Linked DNA regions of Homo sapiens. The protein of the gene in region 1 interacts with the protein of each later gene in a biochemical or structural test. Each region holds a gene or a part of one and is shown in the gene's direction. Other genes may lie near its edges.

The links.
Region 2: the proteins of AP1G1 (region 1) and AFTPH form a complex in vitro, tested with the Homo sapiens proteins (one study listed by BioGRID).
Region 3: the proteins of AP1G1 (region 1) and SNX9 form a complex in vitro, tested with the Homo sapiens proteins (one study listed by BioGRID).
Region 4: the proteins of AP1G1 (region 1) and KIF13A form a complex in vitro, tested with the Homo sapiens proteins (one study listed by BioGRID).

The regions. Positions count from the first base shown.
Region 1 is NC_000016.10:71,798,413-71,806,714, reverse strand, and holds part of AP1G1 (AP-1 complex subunit gamma-1), read left to right. Parts: intron 1-8,302. UniProt on the Homo sapiens protein: Subunit of clathrin-associated adaptor protein complex 1 that plays a role in protein sorting in the late-Golgi/trans-Golgi network (TGN) and/or endosomes.
Region 2 is NC_000002.12:64,518,970-64,527,779, forward strand, and holds the start of AFTPH (aftiphilin), read left to right. Parts: upstream 1-5,358; 5' UTR 5,359-5,643; intron 5,644-6,543; exon of another isoform or gene 6,544-6,596; intron 6,597-8,810. UniProt on the Homo sapiens protein: Component of clathrin-coated vesicles.
Region 3 is NC_000006.12:157,818,290-157,827,143, forward strand, and holds the start of SNX9 (sorting nexin-9), read left to right. Parts: upstream 1-4,956; 5' UTR 4,957-5,145; coding exon 5,146-5,157; intron 5,158-8,854. UniProt on the Homo sapiens protein: Involved in endocytosis and intracellular vesicle trafficking, both during interphase and at the end of mitosis. Required for efficient progress through mitosis and cytokinesis. Required for normal formation of the cleavage furrow at the end of mitosis.
Region 4 is NC_000006.12:17,762,731-17,768,475, reverse strand, and holds the end of KIF13A (kinesin-like protein KIF13A), read left to right. Parts: intron 1-3,529; coding exon 3,530-4,366; 3' UTR 4,367-4,783; downstream 4,784-5,745. UniProt on the Homo sapiens protein: Plus end-directed microtubule-dependent motor protein involved in intracellular transport and regulating various processes such as mannose-6-phosphate receptor (M6PR) transport to the plasma membrane, endosomal sorting during melanosome biogenesis and cytokinesis.

The DNA.
Region 1 (8,302 bases):
TGAACACCTATGTAATGCTCACTCATTTAGTAAGTATGCCCTCGCAGTTACTACTGAAATGTTCCATTTCTGACTTAGACTTTTCAAGTAAGGTGTTAGAAGAGCTATCACATAGATGTTAGTTAACTCAGTGTTTTTCATGCTTTAATATATTGGTATTTAAATGTCATTCAGGCGGGCGCTCAGTGGCTCATGCTTGTAATCCCAACACTTTGGGAGGTGGAAGGTGGATCCCTTGAGCCCAGGAGTTGGAGGCCAGCCTGGGCAACCTAATGAGACTCCGTCTCTACCAAAATATTTAAAAATATTAAACTTTTAAAAATTCATTCTTAGATAGTTTGCATTCACTGTAGAAAGGGTCCTTTTGCCTTAACAAATTCCTAGCAAAGTGTTGTTTAGTGCACCATTGATCAGTGCATATTTGAATGTCTGCTTTGCGTTTAGGAAACCTCCGTTTTCTTTTGGGGGCAGTTGCTTGTTCTTTGGTCTGACCTCTGTCATTGATAGCAGTTCTAGATTTGAGGGCAGATTTTAGAGTGAAACTTTAAAGTACAGAATTTGCCAGGAATGCCTTGGTGATATTTCACCCCAGTGTTTATTTAAAAAAGGAGTTTTAAAAATCAGTGGTATGCAAACAAAACCAACTTCTTTATGATTTATAAAAACTCTTTTTTTTTTTTTTTATTATTTTTATTGTTTGAGACAGGGTCTCACTCTGTTGCCCAGGCTGGAGTGCAGTGGTCTCAGCTCACTGCAGCCTGGACCTCCTGGACTCAAGCGATCCTCCTGCCTCAGCCCTCCACGTAGCTGGGACTACAGGCGTGTGCTACCACGCAGGGCTAATTTTTGTATTTTTTGTATAGATAGTGTTTTGTCATGTTGCCCAGGCTGGGCTCAAGCAATCCTCTTGCCTCGGCCTCGCAAAGTGCTGAGATTACAGGTGTGAGCCACCTCACCTGGCCAAAACTTTTAATTTATACAAATTTAAAAAGTTGAATGAGTATTTTCCAAGATATTATTTTTAATTAAAAAAATTGAATTGGCAATCTACATACCAAAACAGATTTTCCACAATGCTTAATCCCCTTATTTGCATTTGATGAGGATTTTAAAATTTTGTGTATATAGCAGGACTTAATTGCTATCAAAACTTTAAAACTCTTACTTAGAGCTTCAGAACATTTAAAAATACTGTTTTAGGTGTTTGTAATTTAGTCTGTCCTTGCTTTATGAATTGTTTTCAGTTCTTTTTTGTTTGTTTTTTGAGACAAAGTCTTACTCTGTCTCCCAGGCTGGAGTGCAGTGGCTCGATCTCGGCTCACTGTGCAACCTCCACCTCCTGGATTCCAGTGATTTCTGCTGCCTCAGCCTCCCGAGTAGCTGGGATTACAAGCGTGCGCCACCATGCCCAGCTAATTTTTGTATTTTTAGTAGAGGCGGGGTTTCACCATGTTGGCTAGGCTGGTCTCGAACTCCTGAGCTCAAGTGATCCACCCACCTTGGCCTCCCAAAGTGCTGGGATTACAGGCAGGAGGAGCCACTGCGTTCAGTCTGTTTTCGGTTCTTGATTTTGGCTTTCTTTATTCTCTGTTGCTTTTACTCAGTTTCTAATGCAGAATAATGTTGAAAGTAGCAAACAATTTTTTTTCAACTCCTCTCAGCTTATAAGTAACAAGCAATTTTATTTTTATTGATTGATTGATTGAGACAGGTTCTCACTCTTTCACCCAGGCTGGAGTGCAGTGGTGCAATCTCAGCTCACTGCAGCCTCGACCTCCTCCCAGGTTCAAGTGATCCTCCCACTTCAGCCTCCTAAGTAGCTGGGACTGTAGGCATGTGCCGCCTGATTTATTATTTTTTTGTGGAGACGGGGATTCGCCATGTTGCCCAGGCTGGTTTCAAATTCCTGGGCTCAAGAGGTCCTCCCACCTCTGTCTCCCAAAGTGCTGGTATTAAAGGTGTGTGCCACCATGCCTTGCCCACAAGCAATTTTAAACTTAAGAGAGCAGGCTGGTGCAGTGGTTCATGCCTGTAATCCCAGCACTTTGGGAGGCCGAGGCAGGCGGATCACTTGAGGTCAGGAGTTTGATACTAGCCTGGTCAACATGATGAAATCCCGTCTGTACTAAAAATACAAAAGTTAGCCGGGCATGGTGATGTGCACCTGCATTCCCAGCTACTTAGGAGGCTCAGGTGGGAGGATTGCTTGAACAGGGAGGTGGAGGTTGCAGTGAGCTGAGATCACGCCACTGCACTCCAGCCTGGGTGACAGATGGAGGCTCTGTCTCAAAAAAAAAAAAAAAAAATTAAGAGAGCATATAGAAATCTTTTGTATTTCTTGGCTTACAGGTTTTGAAATGATCTTTGTTGGCTGGGCGAGGTGGCTCATGCCTGTAATCCCAGCACTTTGGGAGGCCGAGGCGGGTGGATCACGAGGTCAGGAGATCGAGACCATCCTGGCCAACATGGTTAAACCCCATCTCTACAAAAAAATAGAAAAATTAGCTGGGCATGATGGTGCGCGCCTGTAGTCCCAGCTACTCGGGAGACTGAGGCAGGAGAATCACTTGAACCTGGGAGGTGGAGGTTGTGGTGAGCTGAGATCACGCCACTGCACTCCAGCCTGGGGACAGAGCGAGACTCTTGTCTCCAAAAAAAAAATAAATAAATAAAATATGTTTATCAAAATGTAGTAGCATTTTTACAGTTGCCTTTTTGTATAGAAAATTTTATTTCAATGAGGTCAAGAAATAGAAAAGGGAAAAGAGGTGTCTTTTTTTTTTTTTTTTTTGAGACGGAGTCCTCCTCTGTTGCCCAGGCTGGAGTGCATCGGAGCCATCTCTGCTTACTGCAACCTCCGCCCCCTGGTTCAAGCAATTCTTCTGCCTCAGCCTCCCGAGTAGCTGGGACTACAGGTGTGCGCCACCATGCCTAGCTAATTTTTGTATTTTTAGTAGAGACAGGGCTTCACCCTGTTGACCAGGCTGATCTTGAATTCCTGGGCTCAAGTGATCCACCAGCCTTGGCCTCCCAAAGTGCTGGGATTACAGGCATGAATGAGGTGTCATTTTTACTTTGAAGATACGTGTTAAGTTTTTTTCTTCACTGACCTAGTAACACAATACACTTAATATGGCATGAGTTTTGGTTGCTGGAAAAACTGGTTAAAGTTTGAAGGGTCCAGAAGTGGGAGAAAAAAAACTCACTTGCCAAATGTGTTGAGTCAGCATTAACTAACACTTTAGCATAAAAGGGCAAGGTTTAGGATGAGATGATTGAAATGAGAAATGCTTTTTTTCACTAGGTACTTGGAAATTTTACTTTAAAAAAAAGCCTACTCAGACCATTGGAGAGATTTAATTAGTAAATCATAAATGTTGGCAACAAATTAAGTAGGTTTAGAAGGAAGAAGTCATTTTTTTAAAAGATGAGGAAAAAATACATGTGACTTTTGTAATTTATAAATAAAAACATCTTATTATTTATTTATTTATTCTTTTTGAGACAGAGTCTCACTCTGTCACCCAGGCTGGAGTGCAGTGGTGCCATCTCAGCTTACTACAGCCTCTACCTCCTGGGTTCCCGCGATTCTTGTGCTCAGCCTCCCGAGTAGCTGGGACTGCAGGCGTGCACCACTGTACCTGGCTACTTTTTGTATTTTTAGTGGAGACGGGGTTTTGTCACGTTGGCCAGGCTGGTCTCGAAATCCTGACCTCAGGTGATTCACCTGCTTCAGCCTCCCAAAGTGCTGGGATTATAGGTGTGAGCCACCGAGCCTGGCTAAAATATTTTAAATCTTTCAAAGATATGTAAAGATGTTACGTGTTTTCTCAACCTAAAAATAAACTTCGCTGGCCAGACCTGGTGGCTCATGTCTGTAATCCCAGTACTTTGGGAAGCCAAGTCAGAAGGATCACTTGAGGACAGGAGTTTGAAACCAGCCTGGGAAACACAGTGGGACTCTGGCTGTACGAATTTTTTTTTTGAGACAGAGTCTTGCTCTGTCACCCAGGCTGGAGTGCAGTGGTGCGATCTCGGCTCACCTCAACCTCCGCCTCCTGGGTTCAAGCGATTCTTCTGCCTCAGCCTCCCAAGTAGCTAGAATTACAGGCGCCCGCCACCATGCCCAGTTAATTTTTGTACTTTTAGTAGAGATGGGGTTTCACCATGTTGGACAGGCTGGTCTTGACCTCCTGACCTCAGGTGATCCACCCACCTCGGCCTCCCAAAGTGCCGGGATTACAGGCATGAGCTACCGCGCCTGGCCCAAAATTTTTTAAAGTAGCTGGGTTGTGGTGTCTTTGCCAGTAGCCTTAGCTGCCTGGGAGCCTGAGGCAGGAAGATCACTTGAACCCAGGAGTTCAAGGCTGCAGTGAGCTAAGACTGTGCCACTGCACTCCAGCCTGGGTGACAGAGATAGACTGTCTCAAAAAAAAGAGGTAAGTAAAAAACGCTTCTTTTGCTTCCTTTTAAGACTGAACACTTTTTCAGTTGTTTAGTTTTGAGGTTTAGTTAAATAGGTTCACTAACTTGAGCTGTAAAAACACTAATGGAACTCCTTTTACTTTGAGTTGTACAACTGTATAATCATTTATATAAGTTAGCTCTTTCAACCAAATACACATTGAGTATCTCTTATCTGAAATGCTTGAGACCAGAAATGTTTCATATTTTGGATTTTTTCAGATTTTGGAATATTTGCGTTACACCACTTGTACATCCCTAATCCTAAAATCCAAAATCTGAAACACTTGCAGAGCATTTTTTTCTTTTCTTTTTTTTTTTTTTTTTTGGTTACGGAGTCTCGCCCTGTCGCCCAGGCTGGAGTGCAGTGGCGCAATCTCGGCTCACTGCAAGCTCCGCCTCCCGGGTTCATGCCATTCTCCTGCCTCAGTCTCCAGAGTAGCTGGGACTGCAGGCGCCCGCCACCACGCCTGGCTAATTTTTTGTATTTTCAGTAGAGACGGGCTTTCACCATGTTAGCCAGGATGGTCGTGATCTCCTGACCTTGTGATCTGCCCGCCTCAGCCTCCCCTGCTGGGATAACAGGCGTGACCCACCGCGCCCGGCCTTGAAGAGCATTTCTTCAAGCATCATGTCAACAATCAAAAAATGTCAGGTTTTGGAGAATTTCAGATTTTGGATTAGGGATGTTTACCCTATAGTGTTTACCCTGTAGTGTTACATCATCTGTTCTATGACAGTCTTAATTTTAACCCCAAATTTTAACAGATTATGAATGAATTTACGCTTCAATATTTCTCTCAATGCTTAGTTAAGTACTGTACATACTCACGTAAGTGTACATAGGAATTTTTTGTTTTTACTAAAGAGAGATCATATTATTTATATTACTCTATGACACGCTTTTTTTTTTTTTTAACATGTCATGGTCAGTAAATATAATTCTTTTTTTTTGTTTGTTTGTTTTTTTTGAGATGGAGTCTTACCCTGTCACCCAGGTGGTGGGAATCTCCGCCTCCTGGGTTCAGTGATTCTCCTGCCTCAGACTTCAGAGTAGCTGGGATTATAGGCACCTGCCACCACACCCAGATAATTTTTGTATTTTTAGTAGAGATGAGGTTTCGCCATGTTGGCCTGGCTGGTATCAAACTCCTGACCTTAAGTGATCTGCCTGCCTTGGCCTCCCAAAGTGCTGGGATTACAGGCATGAGCCACCGCGCCCAGCCAATATAATTCATTTTTGTTTTGTTTTTTTGAGACGGAGTTTTGCTTTTGCTGCCCAGGCTGGAGTGCAATGGCGTGATCTCAGCTCACCGCAACCTCCGCCTCCCAGGTTCAAGTGATTCTCCTGCCTCAGCCTCCCGAGTAGTTGGGATTACAGACATGTGCCACCATGCCCCGCTAAGTTTGTATTTTTAGTAGAGATGGGGTTTCTTTCTTTTTTTTTTTTGAGACGGAGTCTCGCTGTGTTGCCCAGGCTGGAGTGCAGTGGCGCGATCCCAGCTCACTGCAAGTTCTGCCTCCCAGGTTCACGCCATTCTCCTGCGTCAGCCTCCCGAGTAGCTGGGACTACAGGCACCCACCACCACGCCTGGCTAATGTTCTGTATTTTTAGTAGAGATGGGGTTTCACCATGTTAGCCAGGATGGTCTCCATCTCCTGACCTCGTGATCTGCCCACCTTGGCCTCCCAAAGTGCTAGGATTAAAGGCGTGAGCCCCCGCACCCGACCCGAGACGGGGGGGTTTCTCCATGTTGGTCAGGCTGGTTTTGAACTCCCGACCTCACATGATCCTCCCACCTTGGCCTCCCAAAGTGCTAGGATTACAGGTGTGAGCCACCGTGCCTGGCCAATATAATTCTTTTTTTTTTTTTTTTTGAGATGGGGAGTCTTGCTCTATCACCCAGGCTAGAGTGCAGTGGTGCGATCTCGGCTCACTGCAAGCTCCACCTCCTGGGTTCACGCCATTCTCCTGCCTCAGCCTCCCGAGTAGCTGGGACTACAGGCGCCCACCACCACACCCGGCTAATTTTTTTGTATTTTTTTTTTTAGTAGAGACAGAGTTTCACCATGTTAACCAGGATGGTCTTGATCTCCTGACCTCGTGATCCACCTGCCTCGGCCTCCCAAAGTGCTGGGATTACAGGCGTGAGCCACCGTGCCCGGCAATATAATTCTTTATTATTATTTTTTTAAAAGATGACATTTTGCTATGTTGCTCAGGCTGATCTCGAACTCCTGGGCTTGAGCAATCTGCCTGCATCGGCCTCCCAAAGTGCTGGGGTTACAGGCGTGAGCCACCGCACCCAGCCAATATAATTTTTTATTATTATTATTATTATTATTATTTTTAAGATGGAACCTCGCTCTGTCACGAAGGCTGGAGTGCAGTGGCGCAGTCTCGGCTCACTGCATGCTCTGCTTCCTGGGTTCACGCCATTCTCCTGCATCAGCCTCCCGAGTAGCTGGGACTGCAGGCACCTGTCACCACACCCCGCTAATTTTCTGTATTTTTAGTAGAATTGGGTTTCACCATGTTAGCCAGGATGGTCTTGATCTCCTGACTTCATGATCCGCCTACCTTGGCCTCCCAAAGTGCTGGGATTACAGGTGTGAGCCACCGCTCCCAGCCTATTAGTTTTTTAATAAGAGATGAGATATAGCTGTATTGCTCAGGCTGGTCTCAAACTCCTGGACTTGAGCAGTCTGCCTCCTGTGGCCTCCCAAAGTGCTGAGATTACAGGTGTGAGCCACTGCACTCAGCCCACAGTAAATATAATTCTATCTTGTTCCTTTAAACAGTCCTATTGTGTCTTATAGCGTGGATGTACCATAATTTATTATTTTCCTGTGGACATTTAGATCATTTCTAGATTTTTGCCACTTAACAAAGTGCTACAATAAATATCCTTGTACATGCCGCCTTATATGCTGATGCTTTTATTTCTGTAGTCTCCAAAGGGGGAATTCTGGGTTAACAGAGAAATATATTTTAAATATTATTATTGCTAGATTACTCTCTAAATAGGTTATCATAATTTTCATCCCAAATAGCAGTAACTTCTCCATATCATGAAACCACTGGGTATAAATACATAGTTTAATTTTTACTAGTCTGCTAGATGATAAATGGGTCATGCAGTTTGTCTTAATTTTAACTTCCCTGTTACTGGGGCTAGCCTTATTTGATACGTATAATAGCCATTGGATTTCCTTTACCGAGAATTGTCTGCTCATGTCCTTGCTTCATTTTTCTTTCTCTTTTTTTTTCCTCCTGTAGGAGCGCTTATGGAATGTTAATTCTTTGTTATATGGCACGTGTATTTTTCTTGTCTTTCATTTATCCTTTTTTTTTTTCCTGGGAGACAGAGTCTCACCCTTGTCGCCCAGGCTAGAGTGCAGTGGTGTGATCTCGGCTCACTGCAGCCTCTGCCTCCTGGGTTCAAGCAATTCTCCTGCCTCAGCTTCCTGGGTAGCTGGGATTACAGGTGCCCGCCACCATGCCCGGCTAATTTTTGTACTTTTAGTAGAGACAGAGATTCGCCATGTTGGCCAGGCTGGTCTCAAACTCCTGACCTCAGGTGATCTGCCTGCCTCTGCCTTCCAAAGTGCTGGGATTACAGGCGTGAGCCACCGCACCACGCCCGGCCTCATTTATCTTTTAATCTTATTTATGTCACAGACATTTTCAGGTAATTATATATATCCCTCTTTTCCTCTTTGGTTTCTGAAACTGTCTTAGAATCCATTCCAGCTGGGTGCAGTGGCTCATGCCTGTAATCCCAGCACTTTGGGAGGCCGAGGCTGGCGGATCACGAGGTCAGGAGACTGAGATCAT
Region 2 (8,810 bases), on another chromosome or scaffold:
AGAGGAAGCTGAGTGCATAAAGGTGTTCAGTAAATTGTTAATTAATTTAAAAAGAAAAATTACAAAAATAATAATCAAGGATAGGATCATAAATTGATATTACACCTGTATAACTATAAAACAATTGAAAGACATGATAAATAGCAAAGCCTCAAGAAAGCTATTAAAAATACATTAAATTTTTCAGCTGGGCGTGGTGGCTCATGCTTGTAATCCCAGCACTTTGGGAGGCCAAGGCAAGCGGATCACCTGAGGTCCAGAGTTCAAGACCAGACCGGCCAACATGGTGAAACCTCGTCTGTACTAAAAATACAAAAATTAGCTGGCCAAGGTGGCGCACACCCGTAATTCCAGCTACTAGGGACGCTGAGGCAGGAGAATCGCTTGAACCCAGGAAGTGGAGGTTGCAGTCAGCCAAGATTGCGCCACTGCACTCCAGCCTGGGCAACAAGAGAGAGACTCCATCTCAAAAAACAAACAAACAAACAAACAAACAAACAAAAAAAACAGAAATACATTAAATTTTTTTTTCTAGAACTACCCACGCCACTCATTCAATGGAATGTCATTTACTGAATAAATATGTATCGCCATCAACCATGTACCAGGCCACTTTCTTGAAGTTGGGAATATAGAAATGAATAAAGCAGACAGAAGTCTCTGCCTTCATGCAACTGTTAAAATTGCATGAAAACTATTTCTATTGTATTTCCCTGGATCCTATGACTACACAAATTTAAAGACAGATGTAGGTTTTAAACAAAGGTTCAGCATTGTACAATAGAAATATAATGTGAGCCACATTGTGATTTAAAATTTTCTAGTAGCTAGTTTTAAAAAGTAAAAAGAAACAGGTGAAATTAATTTTAATGTTTTACTTTATATATTTTTGTCATGACTCACTGCAAGGTTTCCACTTCTCTTCACCTTGAAATAAGGGACAAAAGTAGAAATAGAGTTATCACTTCCACAGTGCCCTGAGGCCAATCTCCTTCAAAATAAAGGAGACTTTTCTCCTGAGAGACAAGTTGCTCAGAAAGGTCATGTTTTCTCCAGGTGATCAGGCTGAATTTCACAACATAGCAGGTTGATAGTGGAACCATTATAGCACATAATGAGCCCTTCAAAGCTTTGCTCAGAGCCAAAAGAGAGGCTTGAAGACTAGAATAAAGAAGAAGGTTGGGCTGCAGCTCCCTTCAGGAGAACACTCCATCTATATTGCTCCATATGTGGTAAGCCCATGAGTGGGTACAGGTTCAGTCCTTGGGGCTGTGAAGTGCAAGATCAAGGTGCCAAGAGATTTGGTTGTTTGGTGCGTGCTGTTCTCTGCTTCCAAGATGGCACCTTGTTGTCAAATCCTCCAAAGGGGGTGGAACGCTGGTCCTCATGTAGCAAAAGAATATGTCTAGATAAATCTAGGAAATTAGTTTGAGGTCTTTGATTTAAATGTTACGTATTCAGGTCAATTACCACTACCAGAAGCCCATCCTTCAAAAGTTTTTCGTTGGAAAGTTCTATAAAATTTGTTAGAACTTTATATACAGAATTTGAGCCTTTAAAAAATTTGCTGAAAAAGTTTCAGCACCTTTAGAAATAATGTAGTCAAACAGCAGTTTCTTCCCTACCTCTCCAATTTTATGGATAAAATTAATACTGTCTTAACAGGTTAAGACATATTAAATATTGAAATATTCAATATTTTCCCTGATACATTGAATATGTCCATAAAGTTCTAGATATCCAGTACTCCAGGAAGTACTATAACACCAAATTGTAATTTTTATTATTTATGCAATAAATTTGATAAGCAAATCCAAGAAAGATCAGTGGGAATGATTAAGAAACAAAATCTCTGTTGCTCATCACACTTTGGGAAAGTCGCTCATTATTATTATTATTATTATTATTATTGAGAAGGGGTCTTGCTCTGTCAGCCAGGGTGGAGTGCAGTGGCGCAATCACAACTCACTGCATTCTTGACCTCATGGGCTCAGGTGATCCTCCTACCTCAGCCTCCCGAGTAGCTGGGACTACAGGAGCATGCCACCTCACCTGGCTAATTTTTTGTAAAGATGGAGTTTCACCATGTTACCCAGGCTGGTCTTGAACTCCTGGGCTCAAGTGATCTGCCCACCTCGGCCTCCCAAAGTGCTGGGATTACAGGCGTCACCCATCATGCCCAGCCTAATAACCTATTTTTATAGAACTGTATGAAGGACATATTTCAAGAGGTAGTGGTGACATAATACCTGTAATCCCAGCGTTTTGGGAAGCCAGGGTGGGTGAATTGCTTGAGCCCAAGAGTTTGAGACCAACCTGGGCAACATAGTGAGACCCCATCTCTACAAAAAATAAAAAAATTAGCTGAGCGTGATGACATGCACCTGCAGTCCCAGCTACTTCGGAGGCTGAGGTAGGAGGATCCCTTGAGCCCAGGAGGTTGAGTCTGCAGTGAGCCGTGATGGCACCACTGCACTCCAGCCTGCGCAATGGAGGGAGAACCTGTCTCAAAAAAATAAAAATATAAATAAATAAATAAATAAATAAAATTTTAAGTAAATGTTTAGATACAGAAAGGACCTTGGCGATTATCTGGTGCATATTTCTTAAGCTGTGGTTCAAAGACCCTCTTCTGTGAATGAGCTTTAGGATGAGAAATTTGAGTGTCTGTGGATACAAGCATTTTTCTATAGAAAGAGCCAAAGCTTTTACCGTATTCTTAAAGAGATACATGTGCCAAAACATTATTTGTCCTAAGAGGGTTGAGAACCTGTGATCTGACTGTATTCTCTCATTTGTTATATAAGGAGACTGAGGTCAAGAGAGGTTGAGTAACTTATACAAAATCATAGTGACAACAGAACTGGTCATAGACCCAGGTTCTACGCATATTGCTTTTCCAGAACACCAACACATTGCTGAGGTTTTGTTCTTGCTTGTCTGTTAATTTCTTACACAATATAAAATGAATTAAACTGTTTTCACTTTTTATTCTTTCCATCTTTTTTTCCCCTCTTAATTATCATTCACTGCTGGTTGGTAAGGAGGTGGTAAAATTAGTGCACTCATATATTGCTGGTGGCATTCTAAATTAGCAGTCTCTTGGAAAATAATATGAGATGATAAATTACCAATAAAACATTCATTGCCTTTTCGCTTAGTAACTTTTATACTGAGAAAAAAAATTCTAAAATTGAACAAAGCCACACACACAAAATGTTCATCTAAGTATTATTTTATAATACTGAAAACTATCCATATAGTGGTCATTCCATTGACTACTAAGCAGCCAATTAAAATTAAGGTTTTACATTAAACGATGGGTGGAAATGCTTACAACACAAAAGGGACACAAAATCTACTTAAATTATGATTACAAGTTTGTAAAAAGTACGCACAGGAAAAAAAAACTAGAAGTAAATACAACAAATGTTAACTGGTAATTTTTTTCTTCTTCTTTTCTTGATGCCAAATCTTAGGTAATGCAGTTATGGCCATAATTTTTAAAAGGTAAATAAAAACAATACTATCATTGACTCCAAATGAAATGGACTTTATATTTCCCACAGATTTATCACCTTAAAAACACTCAAATACTTTCCCTTTGTAATAAAATGTCATGAGCATTAGGGCACTGTCTTCGGAATTACATGTAAGATTACCAATTACAAGTTAGTTGGCCAAATAGGTACTCAATTTCCCTATTACAAAATTGTAAGCTGATGGGGGGTGTGCAATTTAATTTAATTTTTTTTTAGACAGGGTTTCACTCTGTCGCGCAGGCTGGAGTGCAGTTTAAATTCATTTAGTTTAAACATGTTCTTAGTGTAGGGTCTGCTTTAAGGTCTAGTCATATGTTCTTATTTTGATATTTCTGTTTAGTAGAGCTGTAAAATGAAAACAAGCATGTGTTCGTTTAAAATCAATTTCTAGTTTCTACACACACACAAATTCAAGCTTGCACACGAGCTAAACCAGCAGGGGGCGAAATACAATAGGCATAAATTTGACAAGCCATATAGATTTTTCTTACTTTAGTGACTGAGCAATAACACAAAATCCAGCATAACCACAAAGCAATTGATACTCCCATTTAAAGTGATGCAGTCTCCGTATATCTTACAGCGATTGAATAGTAAAGAGACAAATGCGGGTCCATTGGAGCGCTCCGAGTTAATTTGTCTAGAACATTGCAGAGGCGGGATAAATCGTGATGAACTGCTATTGTCCTTATCTTTCTCCTGATTTGTATAATTCCTCCACCCAAAGGGGTGGACACTTCTCTGTGCCTGAGGGGATGTTTTCCATTCTTGTTTCTTTGCGTAACTGCTGAGCTTTGCTGTTTTGGAACTATTTTAAATTATTCAAATTACTGATGCAGACGTTTGGCAAATATGGGCAGAATGAGGGGCCGGCGGGGGTCATGATTTGTAGGACCCCGGGCTCATCATCCGAGACAGTAATCATAATCCTGTAGCCTTGTAGTCTGATTGTTACACTGGCAGGTGTTCTAACAGATATTCATTGTAAAGGAGGAGGAAAGGTAATATTTTTATTACCTTTATATAAATAACAGTTGATTATATAAATAATCAACTGTTCAGGACTGATGATGGAAACAAAATCGGTTACGACCTCTGTTCCAGAAATGCGTTTGAATGCATAAGTTTATGGTGATCTCTTTAGCTTCACTAGATATTCTCCGTAAGGGTCTATGAAAAACGACCACCTTCTCCATCCATTAGCCAAATTCCGGACTACTATTTTCTTGTCGGTCTCGAAGACGATTTGTCAGTTTGGCGGCTGCTTTCCCACCTTAAATTCTATTTATCGCAACCTCTTGTTATTTGTTAAATATCAGCTTCTTCCTCTGTCGGCATAAATTTAAAAAGAGGAAGAGACAGGCTGTGAATGAAAAAGTCGTTTTTCGGGGCGAAAAGGGCAAGCTGACGAATGCTCTCTAGTAGGTTTTTGGTAAAAATGTGGTTCTATATTTCCAAACCTTTACAATTTTATTTGGAGAGCAAGAGACTTAATCCGGTCTTGAGCTGAACGTTAACCGGCTGAAAGGAGCACCTGTCCTTCGCCAGGAGCGCAGCCTCAACCGGCGCCTGAGTGCGGGAAGACGTCTATCCCCCTACAGCTCTATGACTCGCAAGGAAGTAAAAGGAAAGGGCAGCTTGCCCGCACCCAAAATGGCGGTCGGCGCTCTGCACGACAGCGCCTGCGCAGGGATAAGCGTTCTGTGACACCAATTCCCCTGGAGTGTCCTCCCCCACCCCACAGCACCCACCAGCGCCCGGTCCCGACCTAGCCACCTGCGCCCGGAAGTGACGTGTCGGCGGCAGCGGTTCCCCCGCTGCATGATGGGAGAGTGTGTGGAGTGGGCGGGGGGTCTCCGCGGAGGAGGTGGAGGAGGCGGCGGCGGCGGCGGAAGAGGGCGGAGGGTAGTGGGATGGGGGTCCCGCGGCAGCGGTGAAACTCCGGGTGGGCGTCCATGGTGCTGCTGCGCTGACAGGGCTGTGAGCAGCCGGCCTTCCGCTCTCACCAGTTCCGCGTCGGAATAGACGGTCCTTCCCCGGGGAGTCAGTTCCTCCCCGGGCCCCTGAGCCATGCCCATCGCAGCCGCCCCGAAGGAGCCAGGTAAGCGCCGCCGCTCCGCTCCCCTAGCTGCGCCGGGGAAAGAGGGTGCGGGGACCAGGCCCGGCCCAGCAGCCAGACCCTCACCCGGGCCGGGAGCATCTGCCCGCCGCGGAGCCGGGAGCTGTGAGGACGGAGCTGGCTCTGCGGGCCTGCGGGCTCCCGGCTCTGCTCTCTTCTGCGGCGAGTGCGGGAACGCCGCTGGTGGCGCCCGAAGCGCACGGCCCCCTCCTCGCCATCCCGGGCACCGGCCGGGTAAGTGGGAGTCCTTCCCTCCCCGGCCACCGCCGGCTCTCCCTGCCCCTTTGCTTCCACCTCCCAAAGCTCCGCGCTGGCTGCGTTCTCCAGGGAGCTGTTCAGAAGTTTGGGGCTTTGCTTGGGCTTCTTCGCTCTCCTTCCCCCTCCCTCGTGACAGGTGTAAACACTGCCTCCTTCACCGAGGCCCGAGGCTGGCCGCGACCTGAGTGTGCTGCTTCCAAGGGTCTCTGAAGCAAGCGAATTTGGAATCCTCCAACAGGCAGAGGGGACAGCCCCAAAGCTCACGCATCCCTTCCTCAGAGTACCTTTTCTGCTGTCTTCTTGCACTCTTCAAGAAATTATCTGCGTCTCCTCTCCAGTTTGCGTTTGAAAAGTTGGACCATATTCCTTAAGTGCCTGGTTTGGCAGGTGCTGCGTCTTGCTTGGGGCAGAGGCAGAGTATGGAGTGAGGGGTGGTAGGGTCCTTGCTCTATTAGGAAAGTAATGGGGATAGCAAGGTTTTTTTTTCCTTGTTGCTTTGTGCAAGTTATAGCTTGGTTATACTGAATCTTTTCTGTTGGGGCCGAGGGAAGAACTGACTCATACATGTAAATTTTTTACTGGGCGGGGGGATGAAACAAAAGTAATGGTTCCGTTTCAAAGTTCTCACTTTAGGAGAAGTAAAGTAGAACTTTGGTTTTCAACTTTTCCTACAGTGTAAGTCTTCCTTCCACCTCCTATTCCGAGGATTTTATTTGGTGGAGGGGAGACACAGAGTTTATCTTTGATGCTACACTTAATTGTTGCTTTCAGTTAACCTCTTAGACATTAAAATATATGCTAAACTCTAGGGACAACAAATGTTTCAACATTATTATGTTAATATAATTAACACAGTCACGTACATTTTATATGCTTTACCAGTTTAAATGTTGGCTTTTTTAGTAGTCATTTTTAACACTTCGCAGAGGTATATTTGTTTAAACAAAGTATCTGTGGTAGTCTCCTAAATTTTGTTCATAAAGATATTTCACATGGATTAAAAGACAGATCTTGTGTAAAACATCTAGCCCAGTAAATGGCACCTAGCAGATATTCATTAGCTCTAGTTGTTCCTCCGTGGATTAAATTAGATATATCAGTTGATCTTCAAAGTACACATATATTTTTAAATCTTCAAAAACCTCTGGAAAAAAATCCACTACAATTCACATAATATGTAGGGCATTTAAGTTTTAATGTTTGCTGATCTTTTGACCTAGAGACTGTTAAAAAATAATCCCGTATCACAACAAGGATAATATGTCCTTAATAGCCTTGATACATCTTGCCGAATCCAGTTTTCGTTATGAAAATTGTATAGTGTGGGTGAATCATATCATAAAACATCATTTTACATTTTCATTTGTTCTGCTTACATTTAGTGAAAAACTAGTTCAGAAATGTAGTGACATTTGAGTACCAAATAATGTTTTATTTTGTGTGAAATCTAAAGTGCTTTCCTCAGCAGGCAAAGTCTTTGAATAGCTTCTCATTAAGGGATTGCCCCTTCTCTCCCAACCCTTCCCCCAAATCTCATAAAAGGAGGCCGCTAAGTATTTAGATATTTTTTAATCATCATAAATTATTTAAATAAAATGTTTATATTCTAATTTAATGTTACCTACACTTTGTAGATTAAAAAATAAAGGTTTTTCCCTCTATTCTTAGCACTTTCAATTCCTTTTTAAGTAGAATAGTGAACCTTTCTAGCCGGAACTTTATAAGTATTTTTAGTTTTTACACTATTTTGAAAATCTGGCATTGTATGGATTTTACATATCTCATTTTGCTAATCATTTTCTCAGTTTGTGCATATATCAGATATAGTCACAAGTTCTTTTGCAGCTTTATATGATAATTGCTAACACATGAGCAGTATATATGTTGCTCATATATATTGCTTCCTATGAGCAAGATAGTTTTCTAAATGCTTTATATACAGTGTACTAACTCAATCCACACAACAACCTGTAAGGCAGTAAGTAGTAGTATCCCTCATTTTTCAGAGAGGAAACTGAGGCACACAGATACTAAGTAACTTGCCTTAGGTCAAACAGCTGTTAAGTGACAGATCCGTTTGCTAGACCATTTATATAGTCTCATGCAAAACTATACTATGTATTGTCTGTGATTTGTGCAATATGTAGCAAAAGTATAACAACATGCATGGGAATGATAAACACCAAGTCAGACTAAAAGTGACCTTTGGAGAACTTGAGAGGGATGAAGGATCTAGGAGGGGCCCATGGGTTTACAAACATATCTTTATATCCTTAAAAAAAATCCGAAGTTGACTTGTTAAGAGATTAAGATTTAACACACCTGGGTGATGGTTACTGGCTCATTCATTATGGCTTTTTTCTCCCTAAGGTTTGCATGAAGTTCTTCACAATGAAATTAAAAGTTTAAAGGCCGGGCATGGTGGCTCACACCTGTAATCCCAGCACTTTGGGAGACCGGGGTGGGCAGATCACCTGAGGTCGGGAGTTCAAAACCAGCCTGACCAACATGGAGAAACCCCGTCTCTACTGAAAATACAAAATTAGCCGGGTGTGGTGGCACATGCCTATAATCCCAGCTATTCGGGAGACTGAGGCAGGGGAATCGCTTGAACCCGGGAGGCGGAGGTTGCAGTGAGCTGAGATCATGCCAGTGCACTCCAGCCTGGGCAACAAGAGCAAAACATCATCTCAAAAAAAAAAAAAGAAATTAAAAGTTTAGGTATTTAACTTTAAAACATATATAAAGTATCACTCTTCTTTCAGCATTGTATATTTAAAAAAAGGACAGGAAAGGAGTTAGTATTATTTTGTGTTGACTTTCTTTTAAAATACAAGGAGCTTCTAAGTTAAAAAAATGTTTTTAATTAAGAATTGTTTGCCTCTCCAGAT
Region 3 (8,854 bases), on another chromosome or scaffold:
GCTAGGCCAGTCTATTCTTTTCACGTTTTTCTGCCTGCTTTATATTCTAGCTGTGCTGGCAGCTGATTAGATGGTGTCCACCCAGATTAAGGGTGGGTCTGCCTTCCCCAACCCAGTGACTCAAATATTAATCTCCTTCGTCAACAGGCTCACAGACACACCCAGAATCAATACTTTGCATCTTTCGATCCAATCAAGTTGACACTCAGTTTTAACCATCACAGTTTGTAACTTGAGCAATGACACATGAACTAGCAAAATGTCCTATATCCACTGTTACTTCTTTGTGCCCAATCACTGAATGCCAGTACGTCTCCAAGGACTCACGCCAGCCTGTCCTTAACAGGTCAAAGAATTAAAACAATATCCTAGGGCAAAGTTTCATGAGACACCAGGGATCCTACAGGCTGGGACTTCATTTGGGAAGCCAACTGGTGAGCCAATCTTCTCTTGCTGCCCTCACCTCACAGCTCAGTCCTTCTGGGAGTCGGAACTACCCAAACTCAGCAAACAGTCTAGTATAGAACCTTGAGCAAACGGTTCCTGTTCCAGCCTAACACCGCCTGCTGCTGCCACCTCTGCCATCCATGCAGCCTCCCTAGCCTCCAGTCTCTCTCTGCCCATGCCAACTGTCCCTTCCTGGACTGCTCAGGTCCTAGCAGTCAGATTTCTGCTCAATTTCTAGTTCTGGACACTATGTCCCGTTACTGTTTACGGCTCTGTGTCTCCCAGACGATGGAGAAAGAAATGTGACTTAGTCAAAATGGAACAAAAATGAAAACCAACCAATCAGCTAACCAACTAAAACAAACATAATTTTAAAACCATACACTTTTCATACATACATTCAGCTAGTCTAATGCCAAGGGGAAACCTTATAGGAAAAAACCTCTCCTGCTTCTCTTTATTCCTATAAAGATTCTTCAGAGCACTTATAAAAGCACCTGGCACATTAGACATTTATTTGTAGTTTATTGACTTCCCCCACCCTCTACAGATTGTTAAGTTCTAAGAGAGCAGGGACTTTTGTCTCCCTCACCTGTAACAGCATCCAGTCCAAGGTGAGGACGTCATACGTTTATTAGGATTGGAATGGCACCAGCTGCACTCCTTTCCACGTTTATTTTCAAGGTCACCCCAAGGTTTTCTTTAACCTCATTAAATTCATGCCCTAAAGTGAGAGGAGGTATCCCCTTGTGCCAGACCCAGGCTGACTCTGTATTGTTACACATTATTCTCATCCTCCGATCCTTACATTAGGTGACCATCACACATTTTCACTCCGTTCCACATTAGTTCCCATAGTTGCACTTTCCCATGCTAGTTTCCCATTAGTTGACCAAGCATTTAGTTGGGCTCTGAGCTCTTAAAAACCAAAGGAGAATCTAATTTTGAATAAAAACACCTGGCCATACTGAACAAACGCAGGGAAGAGGTGGTGGTCATTATTTTCCTGTCCCCCCAGCTGTGTGGCTGGACGAAGCTTCCTGTGAATCCTAATCACTTTACCTCCTGTGGCATGATTCAAAAAAAAAAAAAAAAAAAGCAGCTAGAGTACAAAGCCTAAACAGAGTGGCTCTGTTGCTCTGCCTCCAGGTCTTTTTCTTTTGAAAGTGCAATCTAGTAATAACCAAACGCAGTCTGCAAATGCAAATCCAATTGCTTAACTAATTGTGTTCTCACCCCTGGAGTAATGGAAGTTCATGCTGTAGAAGAAAATCTGAACTTAGCATGGCCCAGGGTTCTGGGTTCTGGGTTCTAAAGGCAGGCCTGCGTAGAGAATCAACTCTAAGGAAGCTCGCTCAAAGGACGGAGGTGGACAGAAGAGAGATATGCATGGTTGATCAAGTGGGAGCAGAAGACAAACGCCACCACCGGGTGCAGTGGCTCACGACTGTAATCCCAGCACTTTGGGAGGCTGAGGCAGACGGATCACTTAGGATAAGGAGTTTGAGACCAGCCTGGCCAACGTGGCAAAACCCTGTCTCTACTAAAAATAAAAAATAAAAAATAAAAAAAAACTTAGCCAGGCATGGTGGCAGGTGCCCGTAATCCCAGCTACTGCGGAGGCTGAGGCAGGAGAATCACTTGAACCTGGGAGGCGGAGGCTGCAGTGAGCCGAGATTGGGCCACTGCACTCCAGCCTGGGTGACAGAACAAGACCCAGTCTCTCTCTCTATATACAAATATATTCTATGAAAGTGGGTCTCCTCTATAACATTCATGAAGTAATGTTGATTTTGACTGACGTATATAAAAATAAAACTCCTAAGTTTAGCAGTATTTACTGGAGATATACTACCCAATTCATTACTAAAAATGTGAAAAAGATTTTAGTTATGTTCAAGATCCCTTCGGTGTGGCTTATTGTGAAAGTGCACATGTTTATCTCTTTTTTTTTTTTTTTTTTTTTGAGTCGGAGTCTTGCCCAGGCTGGAGTGCAGTGGCTCGATCTCGGCCCACTGCAACCTCCGCCTTCCGGGTTCAAGTGATTCTCCTGCCTCAGCCTCCTGAGTAGCTGGGACTACAGGCGCGTGCCACCATGCCCAGCTAATTTTTGTATTTTTAGTAGAGACGGGGTTTCACCATGTTGGCCAGGATGGTTTCGATCTCTTCACCTCGTGACCCGCCCGCCGCAGCCTCCCAAAGTGCTGGGATTACAGGCGTGAGCCACAGCGCCCGGCCATGTTTATCTCTGTTTATGTACTTTTTCATTTGTTTTTCACAGTCTTGCTCTTTTTAAAACAACAACAACAACAAAAAACTTCTAGAAATGAGGTCTCACTATGTTGCCCAGGCTGGTGTTGAACACCTGGGCTTAAGCAATCCTTCCACCTTAGCCCTCCACCATTACTTCTAAAAAATAAAACCAGGGTTATGAAATTGTTCTGGTGGGAAAAGCTTGAAGTCTCTAGTCTTCTTGCTTTCATGGTGCTGGGTGCCCAGGATGACTATTTGCATAGGATTTGCCAGATGAGCATGTGGAAAGGCCTGTCTTCACAGGTGTGCCCCTAACTTTGCACCTTCCTATCAAGGGATGCATTGTTGAACGGCTGCAGAGAGAGCTGTACCCAGCCTTCACATTTAAAAGAATATGGAAAACTCATTACTTATGACATTGCCTGAGTTCAAATCCTGGCTTTTCCACATACTAGTGTGTGCTCTTAGCCAAGTTATTTCTTCCATTGTTTATTAAAATATAACTGCTGTTTTTAAATGAAGTCATATATACACATGGTCAAAAACTCTGACAACAGGATCTGGCGAATCTTTCTCAGAAATTTTCTAGGAATGTGTCACATATTTCCTTTTTTTTTTTTTTTTTACATAAATGTACCATACATAATGTTCTTTTTATCTTTCTTAACACCTCTTAGAATATTATCATTTTCTTACGGGCTTCCTAGTATTTTTGTTTGAATGGATGTATCTTATTTACTGAAACAGTCCTGTTAACAAACACATAGGTTGCTTTCTGGTTGGAGTTATTACAGAACAATCTTTGATGAACATCTTTGAACACTTGTACAAGTGTTTGACAGGATAAATTCCCAGGAGGGCTGCTGGGTCCAAGGCTACGGTCATTTTCGATTTGAATAAGTATTACCAAATGGGCAAGTTATTTAAGTGATCCCTGAGTCGCTCTTCTTTGTAAACAGTGGACAATAATGAGTTTCTCAAATGTTTCTTATAAGGATTAAATGAGATGGGGATGTGGAAGCCTAGTATACAGCAAGCAGGCCGTCAATGAATGTTGGCCTCCCAATATTTTTTTTTACGGAGAAAGACAACTATTTATGCATATTATGATGACTATAGCTTAACCATGAGCTCAACAAACACAAAAATTCACAGAAAATTCTGCAATACCGTATCTATTTTAAACCCCATTATTGAATATAACTAGTGAAATCTCAGGTCAAATAGAATGTATTTAAGAAGACACAAACTTGACATTAAACACCAGAGATTTACATTTGATAGTTGTCTCTTCTTACAAATATATCCCTCATAATAATAAAAAAGCACTCCACTAGTATGCCAATTAAGACACATCTTCCAGTCGTGTTTTGTCCTTGAGTGAAAAATCTTGCTGCTCAATTCAAGTCATTCGTTTATTCATAACACCCATATATATATCTCCAACTCTGGAAAGAAACACTGACAGAAAGATGGAAAATTTTAGAGACCTCGTTTCCACTTCAGAGAGCCTGTTGTCCCCCAAACCTCTCGGGCCCTCCGGTATTTTTAAGCTTATCAAGATTCCAGAATGAGGTTAACGGGGCGTCACAGAACGAAACCCCCCACCGTCCCGTCCCAGGGGCTTCAAGCCAGGACCCCGGCCTGAGGGAGCCTCCGGGCAGGAGGAAGAGGCCCAGGAAGCCATCGCTCCGCTCCTTCCCAGCTGTTTATGTGGTACTCAGGGTACTCGGCCAAGGGCACGGCGACCCCGCAACACCCCAGGCGTGGGGCAAAGACAGCGGGGTTGCGGGGCTCCTGTCTGCCCGGGGCGTCGAGAGTTCCTGCCGCCCCCTCCCGCCTCATGCACGGAAAGCGCCGAGCCACGGCGTGCGGCGCCGGCCGAGCGTGAACCGGAGTCGGGGTTCGGCTACCCCGAGCGGCTCTGTGGGCCGCGGATCGCTTCCCCTGGGGCGGCCACGCAGGGTTGCGGGCCATGGCCTGGGGCGCCCGTCCGGACCCCGCCGCTGCGCGGGACGCCGCTCCCAGCCTCGACCAAGGGCGCCCGGGGGCGGCGGCGGCGGCGGCGGCGGTGACTGCCCGGGGCGGCGGCGCGGCGCGGGGGCGGCCAGGAGGCGAGGAGGCCGGGCCGCGGCCGAGGGCCCAGGGCGCGCTTCCGGCGGGCGTCGCGCGCGCCGCGGTAAATGGGAGGCTCGGCCGACAGGGGCGGGGGCCGCGCAGCCGGGGACTTTCAGGAACTGCAGGAGCGTGCGGCGCGGGAGTAGCCGAGCGCCCAGCGGCTGGGCCTGAGCGTCGAGACTCGGGGCCGAGGCGGAGGAGCGGCCGCCGCGCCGGGGCCCAGCCGGAGCCGCCGCCCTCGCCCTTGCCTTTGCCTGCGCGGCTCAGAATCACCATCCGCGGCGCGGGAGACGAGCCGGCCGTCCCGGGCCGGGGGACCCGCCCGCCATGGCCACCAAGGTGAGGGGCGCGCGGCGCAGGCCGGGCCGGTCGCTCAGGCCCGGGGCGGCGCGGAGAGGGTCGGGGCCGGGGCCGCGGGGAGGGTCGGGGCCAGGGGTGGTCGAGGGGCCACTCCGCTTCCTCGGTGGAGTCCCCGGGCGGGTCCGCGGCCCAGCCAGTCCCTTCTGGGCATGGGTGCGGCGGGCAGTGCAGACAGACCACCAGGATCGCACCGGGGGACGGCGTCGGGTCTGGGCGCGGGTTGGGACCCCGGGCGCAGCGAGGTTTGGGAAGTTTGCACCTGAGCGTGGGCTGCGGCGGGCTCGCCGGGAGGGGCCGCGGGACGGAAACTTCCCGCAGCCCGGGGAGGCCCCCGAGGCGACTGGCGCTCTGTGGCGTCCGGCGTCCCCGCCGCCCCCACGTCCCCTCCCGCTGCCGCCTGGGGGACCCTCGCCCCCGCGGGGCGGGTGGGGGTCGAGACCTCGGCGGAGAGGACGCGGCGCTTCCCGTCCCGGCCTGCGGGGGCTCGCGGCCGGGGAGGGACCGAGGCTGGGACGCCCCGCGCCCCTTTGCCTTCGCTGCTGTTATTTTTTTCTTTTGTTTTGCTACCTTTTCATTGTGAATGGCATTGCCGGCATGAATAAAATATCAAGAGGGAAATGACTGTGCTTTCGATTACGTGTTTGCCTGAAAAAAGGCCCAGGCCCGAATTACGTGGTGGAACTTTGACTCCTGCTTCGTCATTGGCTAGGAGCGGTGGTTTGCTTGTTTTACGTTATTGTTTATGAAATTAGCAGTCACTCTTGGCTACCTGAATTTTCAAAAGCCACCCTCCCCCGCTCCTTTTCCTTGGGCGTTTTCAGTAGTTACTTGATGTAGAATAGCCACTGGGGAAGTCACGGTCACGGAAGGGAGGACCTGGGGGAGGAGGCTCTATACCTGAGCCATTAACTGATCTGTGATACACTGTGAGGAGTGGGTTTACTTTTGCACTTAGTTTTTGTAATGTCACTTTGTTAGCATCAGCACCCCTTTGTCTATTTGTTTTTGAGATCTCTGAGCTACTTTTGGGTTGCTAGAAACGTTATTTTTTATTTTTCGATAGGTGTTTGCTTTTTTTGTGGAGTGTTAAGGTAGAAAATGGTAAGAAATGTGAAATCTCTTTGAAAGATCAGCATTGCTTGACTTCGGTCTGCTAGATGTTGTGCTGTGGTAAATTTTGTGCTCTGAATCCATCTAGGTGCAGCGTTTGTAGAGAAATGGGGATTCTCCTCCAGGGAACCTGTTGCTGCTGTTACTGAAATAATTACCTTCTTGTTAATATATTATTGCCTGTGCTGTGCTTTGGTTTTATTAATGCGATAGAACTTGCCACCTTTTTAACGTATTAATTTTGTGTTGACCTTTTTAAAAATAAAACTTAGGCCAAGGATTTCTAAGGAAATTTGATTTTGAGGTTTGTTGCCAGACATTCCAGAAATTACCAGTTACACATCCTAGTACATGCTCATCTTGCAACCTTAAAAGCGGTTTATAGGCCGGGCGCGGTGGCTCACTCCCACCTGTAATTCCAGCACTTTGGGAGGCCGCGGTGGGTGGTTCACCTGAGGTCGGGAGCTCGAGACAAGCCTGGCCAATATGGTGAAACCCTGTCTCTACTAAAAATACAGAAATTAGCTGGGCGTGGTGGCGCGCGCCTGTAGCCCCAGCTGCTCTGGAGGCTGAGGCAGGAGAATCGCTTGAACCCGGGAGGCGGAGGTTGCAGTGATCCGAGATCGCGCCACTGCACTCCAGCCTGGGCGACAGAGCGAGACTCCGTTTGAAAAAAGAAAAGACGAGACTCCGTTTGAAAAAAGAGAAGACGGTTTATGACATAGAGATCTGTCTAGTGGTGGTCAGTGTGTTTTTACACTCTGGTCTACTGAGGCATGTTATCTGTACTGTCCTTTAAGTGGAATGCAGTTTAGCAACTAGTGCAGGTATATATAGTGAAATTTTTATTTCATAGTTAATCCTGAACTTAATTTTTTTCCAAAAAATCGAAAAGTGGTTCTTGTATATTAATCTCGAATTGCATGTGTCTTTGATTAAACACGAGCCTTAAAGCATGCGTAAGGACTTCCTACTTCGTTATCTACACCACTCCAAAGGCAAATTCCAGTAGTTCTGTTAGTTTCTTTCGGCTGCCTAATCACTGTTCCACATGGTGCTCATTTCCATGTTTACATTGTGACAAACCATTTCCATTTTAAGAAAAAGAAGAGCAACGAAGCAGTTATTAAAAGAAGACCCTTCCTTTGTTTTCTGACATGCTGGTGATTCTTGTGTCAAACCAAAGTCTCATTTTTTAATTGTTCCCAGAGAGTCAAGTTGGTGCTTTCCTCCCTTCCCCCATATGCACACTCCTTCCCCACACCTGAGTAGTTGTGTTTTTTCTTTGTCTTCTTCAAGGGGTGGGGAGAATGTGCTTAGTAGTAATGACTAACTTTTAATAAAAATGTAGGCTCCAGTGGCACTCAGGCTGTTGCTATAAGTATTAACTGATGAAAAGTAAATTCAGTATCTGGATATTTTAAGGGATGTCGATTTCCCTTTGAATTTATCAGAGACTTGGCTATAGTATCTTCAGATACAATTTTCTTGTTTGTTCTTACGTATTAAGGATGTGGTTATCACTGAACTATTGGGATTTTTAAAAACTCCACTACTATATTTTACAATAAAAAAGGAAATTATCTTTTAGAAGAAGAACTTTAGTTTGACAGTCCTTCACTGCTAAAGAAAGTTAATCAGGGTCGGGCGCCGTCTCACGCCTGTAATCCTAGCACTTTGGGAGGCCGAGGCGGGCGGATCACGAGGTCGGGAGATCGAGACCATCCTGGCTAACACGGTGAAACTCCATCTATACTAAAAATACAAAAAAAATTAGCTGGGCGTGGTGGCGGGCGCCTGTAGTCCCAGCTACTCGGGAGGCTGAGGCAGGAGAATAGCGTGAACCCGGGAGGCAGAACTTGCAGTGAGCCGATTTTGCGCCACTGCACTCCAGCCTGGGTGACAGAGTGAGACTCCATCTCAAGAAAAAAAAAAAAAAAAGGAAAGTTAATCAGTAACTGCACATTTTAAGGGGATTATCTATTTTCTATTTCTACTCCTTACTCAGTAGAGTGCTGCATTCAGTTTAAGTGTATACACTCACTCAGTGCAATCAAGTCTTGTTTTACAAATATTAATACAAAAGCTGCAGAGCATTTTAGTCTTGACCTTTATTGGAAGCCTCCAAAGGTTATATTTCGACCCAGCCAAAATATAACCTATTTATATTATAGGTTTTATATATATATGATATATAAATATATTATATTATATATATATATTATATTTTATATATAAATATATATTATATTTTATATATATATTATATTTTATATATAAATATATATTATAGTTTATATAATATATAAATATATATTATAGTTTATATAATATATAAAATATATTATAGTTTATATAATATATAAAATATATTATAGTTTATATAATATATACATATATATTATAGTTTATATAATATATACATATATATTATAGTTTATATAATATATACATATATATTATAGTTTATATAATATATAAACATATATTATAGTTTATATAATATATAAACATATATTATAGTTTATATAATATATACATATATATTATAGTTTATATAATATAT
Region 4 (5,745 bases), on another chromosome or scaffold:
CAGCACGACATGATTATAATAGGAGTGGAAATTGCATTAATGAAGGAAACTCCTTACAAAGAGTCACTGCTTTAATGTGGATTTCAGTCCCTTTTTAAAATCAAGGTGTTTTCTGTATAGGTAAATATCAGCTGCATAAGTTAAATTTGCAAAACTCAGATGAAGACTGTAGCTATAGAGAAGCTTGAGAACTTGACTCCATGTGCCACTTCAGATAGGGTTTTAATTATCTTTTTCCTTAAGACATTGTAGGAAGGTGCTTAGTTTATTCTTCTTTAAGCTATGATGAGAAATGAGATTTCTGGTATAAAAAATCTAAACCAAACTCCCTCAAAAATATGAGTTTAAGCCAATTAAATCCTCCCTTAATTGGCAATAACTCAATAAACATTCAATCTCCTTTTAAGTATTGGAAAATGTTTAATCTCTACTAAGTTTTCCTTTTTCTGGAATAAGCTGTCCCTACTGTTTTAGTCTTTCCCTCTGGGCTTTTGGGTTATTTTCCCCACTGTGAACTGCTCCCTATTTGAACTTAATCTCTTGGGGCTTTGTAGATTCTTAGTTTTATTAATGTCATTCTAATCCTTGAGGAATAATTTATTATCTTTGATAAATTTACAACTATTTCTACTCAGTGAATTCATGATTACATATTTCATTCAGCAAAATTGTATTTTAGGATAACAGGCCTTTCCTTGGTCTCGAGAAGAAATAACTTCAAGCATATAAAGGACTCCAAATTACTAATTCTCATTTTTAAATTTGATTTTCCTTGAAGTAAATAACTTTTCAGTACTTAATTATAGTAAATAGTAATTTAGTAATTAATTGCATCAGGTATGCTTGGACTTGGAGAATTGTGTTTGCCAACTTAAATCAAAAGGAAATAGAAGAGATACAAACACTTGAAATTTAATTTTGTGCCGGGCATGGTGGCTCACACCTGTAATCCCAGCACTTTAGAAGCCCGAGACGGGCAGATCGCCTGAGGTCAGGAGTTCGAGACCAGCCTGGCCAACATGGTGAAATCCTGTCTCTACTAAAAATACAAAAATTAGCCGGGCATGGTGGCGGACACCTGTAATCCCAGCTACTTGGGAGGCTGAAGCAGGAGAATCACTTGAACTCGGGAGGCAGAGGTTGCAGTGATCCAAGATCGCGCCATTGCACTCCAGCCTGGACGACAAGAGTGAGACTTCGTCTCAAAAAAAAAAAAAAAATTAATTTTGAGTCTAAACATGACAAGTAGAGAATCTAGAAAATATAGGCAAAGGCTACTGGTTCAGACAATTCTGTTCAATCTTTGTTCCTTCTCCAACATTCTGCCCAACCCTGGGAAAGAATGCTCCACCCCACTTTTTTGATAATGCTACTTAATTTAGAATGCAGATAAAGATGAGAAGAGATTAGTGTTGCCAAAAATTTTGTTTTGCCAATTTCAGGAACTTTATCACTGATATTTGATATTCACCTTTGATTAACAGCTAAAGAATTAGGATCACCAATTCCTTTACACATTTATTTTCAGTCACATTTTTACAACTAAGTTATAAAAACTAAATTATTTTAAAAGCTGAGAAGCATTTAAGAGAGTATTAAACTTTTTTTGAGGTATATAGAATCTTGAGATGCAAAAGAAAATATTACTATTAATCTAAACAGATGAAATTTATGTTCATTTGTGAACAAGTATTTGCCATGCCTTGAAGATAAATCCCCCCTCCCCACCTCGATTAAAAAGCAAATTTATGTTATGGGCCAGGTACAGTGATTCACACTTGTAATCCCAGCTACTCAGGAGGCAGAGATTGGAGGATTGCTTGAGCCCAGGAGTTTGAGGCTGCAGTGAGCTACAGTTGCATCACTGCACACCAACCTGAGTGACAGAGCAGGACCCCTGTCTGTAAAAAAATAAATAAATAAAAATAAATAAATCCTAGCCGGGCACGGTGTCTCATGCCTGTAATCGCAGCACTTTGGGAGGCTGAGACGGGCAGATCACCTGAGGTCGGCAGTTTGAGACAAGCCTGACCAACATGGAGAAACCCTGTCTCTATAAAAATACAAAATTAGCCTGGCATGCTGGCGCATGCCTGTAATCCCAGCTACTCGGGAGGCTGACGCAGGAGAATTGCTTGAACCTGGGAGATGGAGGTTGCGGTGAGCCGAGATCACACCATTGCACTCCAGCCTGGGCAACAAGAGTGAAACTCCATCTCAAAATAAATAAATAAATAAATAAATAAATAAATAAATCTTAAAAATAAAATAAGTAAATTAATAAAATGCAAACTTAATGAGTAAGGCTGATGCTTCGGTTCCAGGTCTTTACATGCACCTAGTAGTTCTAATTGTACAGATGCTTTAAACCAGATGACCAATGAAAGAAAGCTAACTGTTTTTGAGGTGTCTAAGTTTACCTGTGAATGAAATTCTTATCCATCCATGCAGCATCCAGGATTGTTCTAAGAGCAAGGACGCAAAGTTGTAATTCTCTGAGGGAGGGACCATGCCTTCTTGTGCTCACCATTGCTATTTCCAAGTCCTTAGGACAATGGCTGCCATGTAGTGGATGTTCAGTGTGTATTTGTTGAATGAAAGACATATTTTAAAAGGAATATTTGCGATTTCATTAGGTGCTTCTGAGATTAATTAGAAATGGCTAGAGAGTTTATCACTTATTTTATTTGGACTTAAAATACCCACATTTTTTCTACCAAATATAAAAGAATCATTCATTTGGAGAGAGACTGGGGAGTTGGTGACACCCACTTTTGCATGTATTTACCAATTTTTGTGAACAGGGGCTTGAAAACTGTTTTACAAAGGAGATTTTCATTTAAATTTCACTATGCCTTCTTCACCTTCTAGCCAAACCCTCTACTCATACTTCTCAAAAATCCTAGAAGACCGTAATTGTCAGATTGTTAGTATTTTATAGCCTTACGATATGTAGCATAATATAAGAATGAGTGTTGAAATTGTGTTTTTTGCCCTTTTGCAGTTGGGTTCTTTGTTTTACTCTCTTCTCCCCCATAAAATAGCTGAGAAACTTTTTAAAAATTACCTTAACTGCCTGCACTTTGCTTCCCAAGGTGAAGATTCTAAAGACAAAAGGAGTGGCTCTTCTCTGCTTCTGCCTGTTTCTCTGCTCATTTAATGAGAAAAGAGAAAACATCACAACTAAAAGCTAATTTTGAATAACTAACAAAATGTCCACTGCACTTCAGTTCCATTCTTTCTCTTAAACCAGGGAAGGAATGATTTCTAATTAGCACTGAGTGAGCCTAAAAGAACTAAATCCCCTTCATATTAGATGATAAGGGGTTTATATTCACAGGTCTCTGAGAATACTGATACACCTATATCTACAATAGGTGACAAGATCTGGCCAAATTTGGAAAGACAAAAAGAAAACACTGAACACCATGTGAATGTGAATGCCTTTAACAGCCAAGTATTTAAAACTTGTCTCAACAGTACAGTTGCTACAAGGAGCTAATGACTGACTTTTGCTTCACTTCTATAGGACTCTGAGGAGGAAGAAAATGAGCTGGAAGCTATTAACAGGAAGCTAATAAGTTCACAGCCTTATGTACCTGTGGAGTTTGCTGACTTCAGTGTTTACAATGCCAGCTTGGAGAACAGGGAATGGTTTTCCTCTAAAGTAGATCTGTCAAACTCACGGGTCTTGGAGAAAGAAGTGTCCCGTAGCCCTACCACCAGCAGTATTACCAGTGGCTACTTTTCCCACAGTGCCTCCAATGCCACCCTGTCTGACATGGTGGTCCCTTCTAGTGACAGCTCAGACCAGCTGGCCATTCAGACGAAGGATGCAGACTCCACCGAGCACTCCACACCATCGCTTGTGCATGATTTCAGGCCGTCCTCAAACAAAGAGTTGACAGAAGTCGAAAAAGGCTTGGTAAAGGACAAGATAATTGTGGTGCCACTCAAGGAAAACAGTGCCTTAGCCAAAGGGAGCCCATCATCCCAGAGCATCCCTGAGAAAAACTCCAAATCACTGTGCAGGACTGGCTCATGTTCAGAACTAGATGCCTGCCCCAGCAAAATTAGCCAGCCAGCCAGGGGATTCTGCCCCAGGGAGGTGACGGTAGAACACACCACCAACATCCTTGAAGACCATTCTTTCACAGAATTTATGGGAGTGTCAGAGGGAAAAGATTTTGATGGTTTGACAGATTCTTCTGCTGGAGAGCTTTCCAGTAGGAGGAGTCTACCAAATAAAACAGGCGGCAAGACTGTCTCCGATGGGCTCCACCACCCCAGCCAGCTGCATTCCAAGTTAGAGAATGACCAGGTAATAATTCCAGAGGCAGCCTTTTGGGTTCTGTGCTGTCAATGAGTATGTCTAACTGTATGTCAACCCCAGAGGCCCTTCACCGCAACAACTTGGTAGGAAAGATTCATCCAGTTGTTTGTGACAGCAAAGATGAGCCCACAGAGAAGCAGGCTCACTTCCTGCACAGCTGTCTCTGTCGGAGAGCAAGTCTGTTTTGGGAACTAGAACGCAATTGTGAAATTATAAGACCAGTGGATTTTTTTACCTGGCACATGGGTTGGTGTTGAATGAAGTGTTCAGATGGATAAGGATCAATCTCATATTCATTCCCTGGGATGTTTAGTTACCAGTTTTCCCAAAGTGTTCTGGTAGCATCTACCATATTTCATCAAATCTGTGATTCCTTTGATTATTATATGAACCATTATTTTATGTATCATTAAGAAAAAATACTGCCAATTAAACTCTGTCATATCAACAGTTGTAAGACACCCCAATTTCAGAGATGGTAAAGTGTGGAGAGAAAAACATATATATCATAGAATTGGAAATAGACAGTCGTTTGGTGCCCGTAGGTGAAAAAGTGCTTTGGGGCGGTATAGGCAAATTCCAGCAGCAGTTGAAGTTTGGACTTTGGAAGTAACTCAGTTTATAATACTGGTTAATTTTCTTTTTTCTTTTTTTTTTTTTTTTTTTTGAGATGGAGTGTGGCTCTCACTCTGTCACCCAGGCTGCAGTGCAGTGACACGATCTTGGCTCATTGCAGCCTCCACCTCCCTGGCTCACGTGATCCTCCTGCCTCAGCCTCCCGTGTAGCTGGGACTACAGGCACGTGCCAGCACATCTGGCTAATTTTTTTATATTTTCACCATGTTGGCCAGGCTGGTCTCAAACTTCTGACCTCAGGTGATCCATCCCCCTTGGCCTCCCAAAGTGTTGGGATTATAGGCATGAGCCACTGTGCCTGACTAATATTGGTTAATTTTCATACGGGAACAAAATGAGTTTTTGCCACTATTACTAAGGAAAATCACAAATTACATAAATAAGAGATGTTCTGCTTCTGAGCATTCTGCTCTGAAGTACCACCATTTATTCCCATTCACATTCATTTGTTTGGTCCCCCAACTTGCTGTAAAAGGCATGGGAGAGTCATGGCTTAGCAAAATAAAGAACTGACAGAGCTAGAAAGAGGCTTGGTAAAAGTAAAATAATCATGCTGCTACTCTATCCCTTTGTTTTGCGAGCAAGTTACTCCATTGATGTGGCTTTTGCCCCTGCTTTTCATAACAGCCCTTAAAATTTCAATGTATGGTCATTTATACAGCATACTCATTACTGAACTGCCAAAACCTAAACAGTCATCTCTGACAAGAAAAAGACTTCCTTCCCCGACATAAGAATAATGATAGAGTCACTCACCACCATTCTTGCAAGCAATA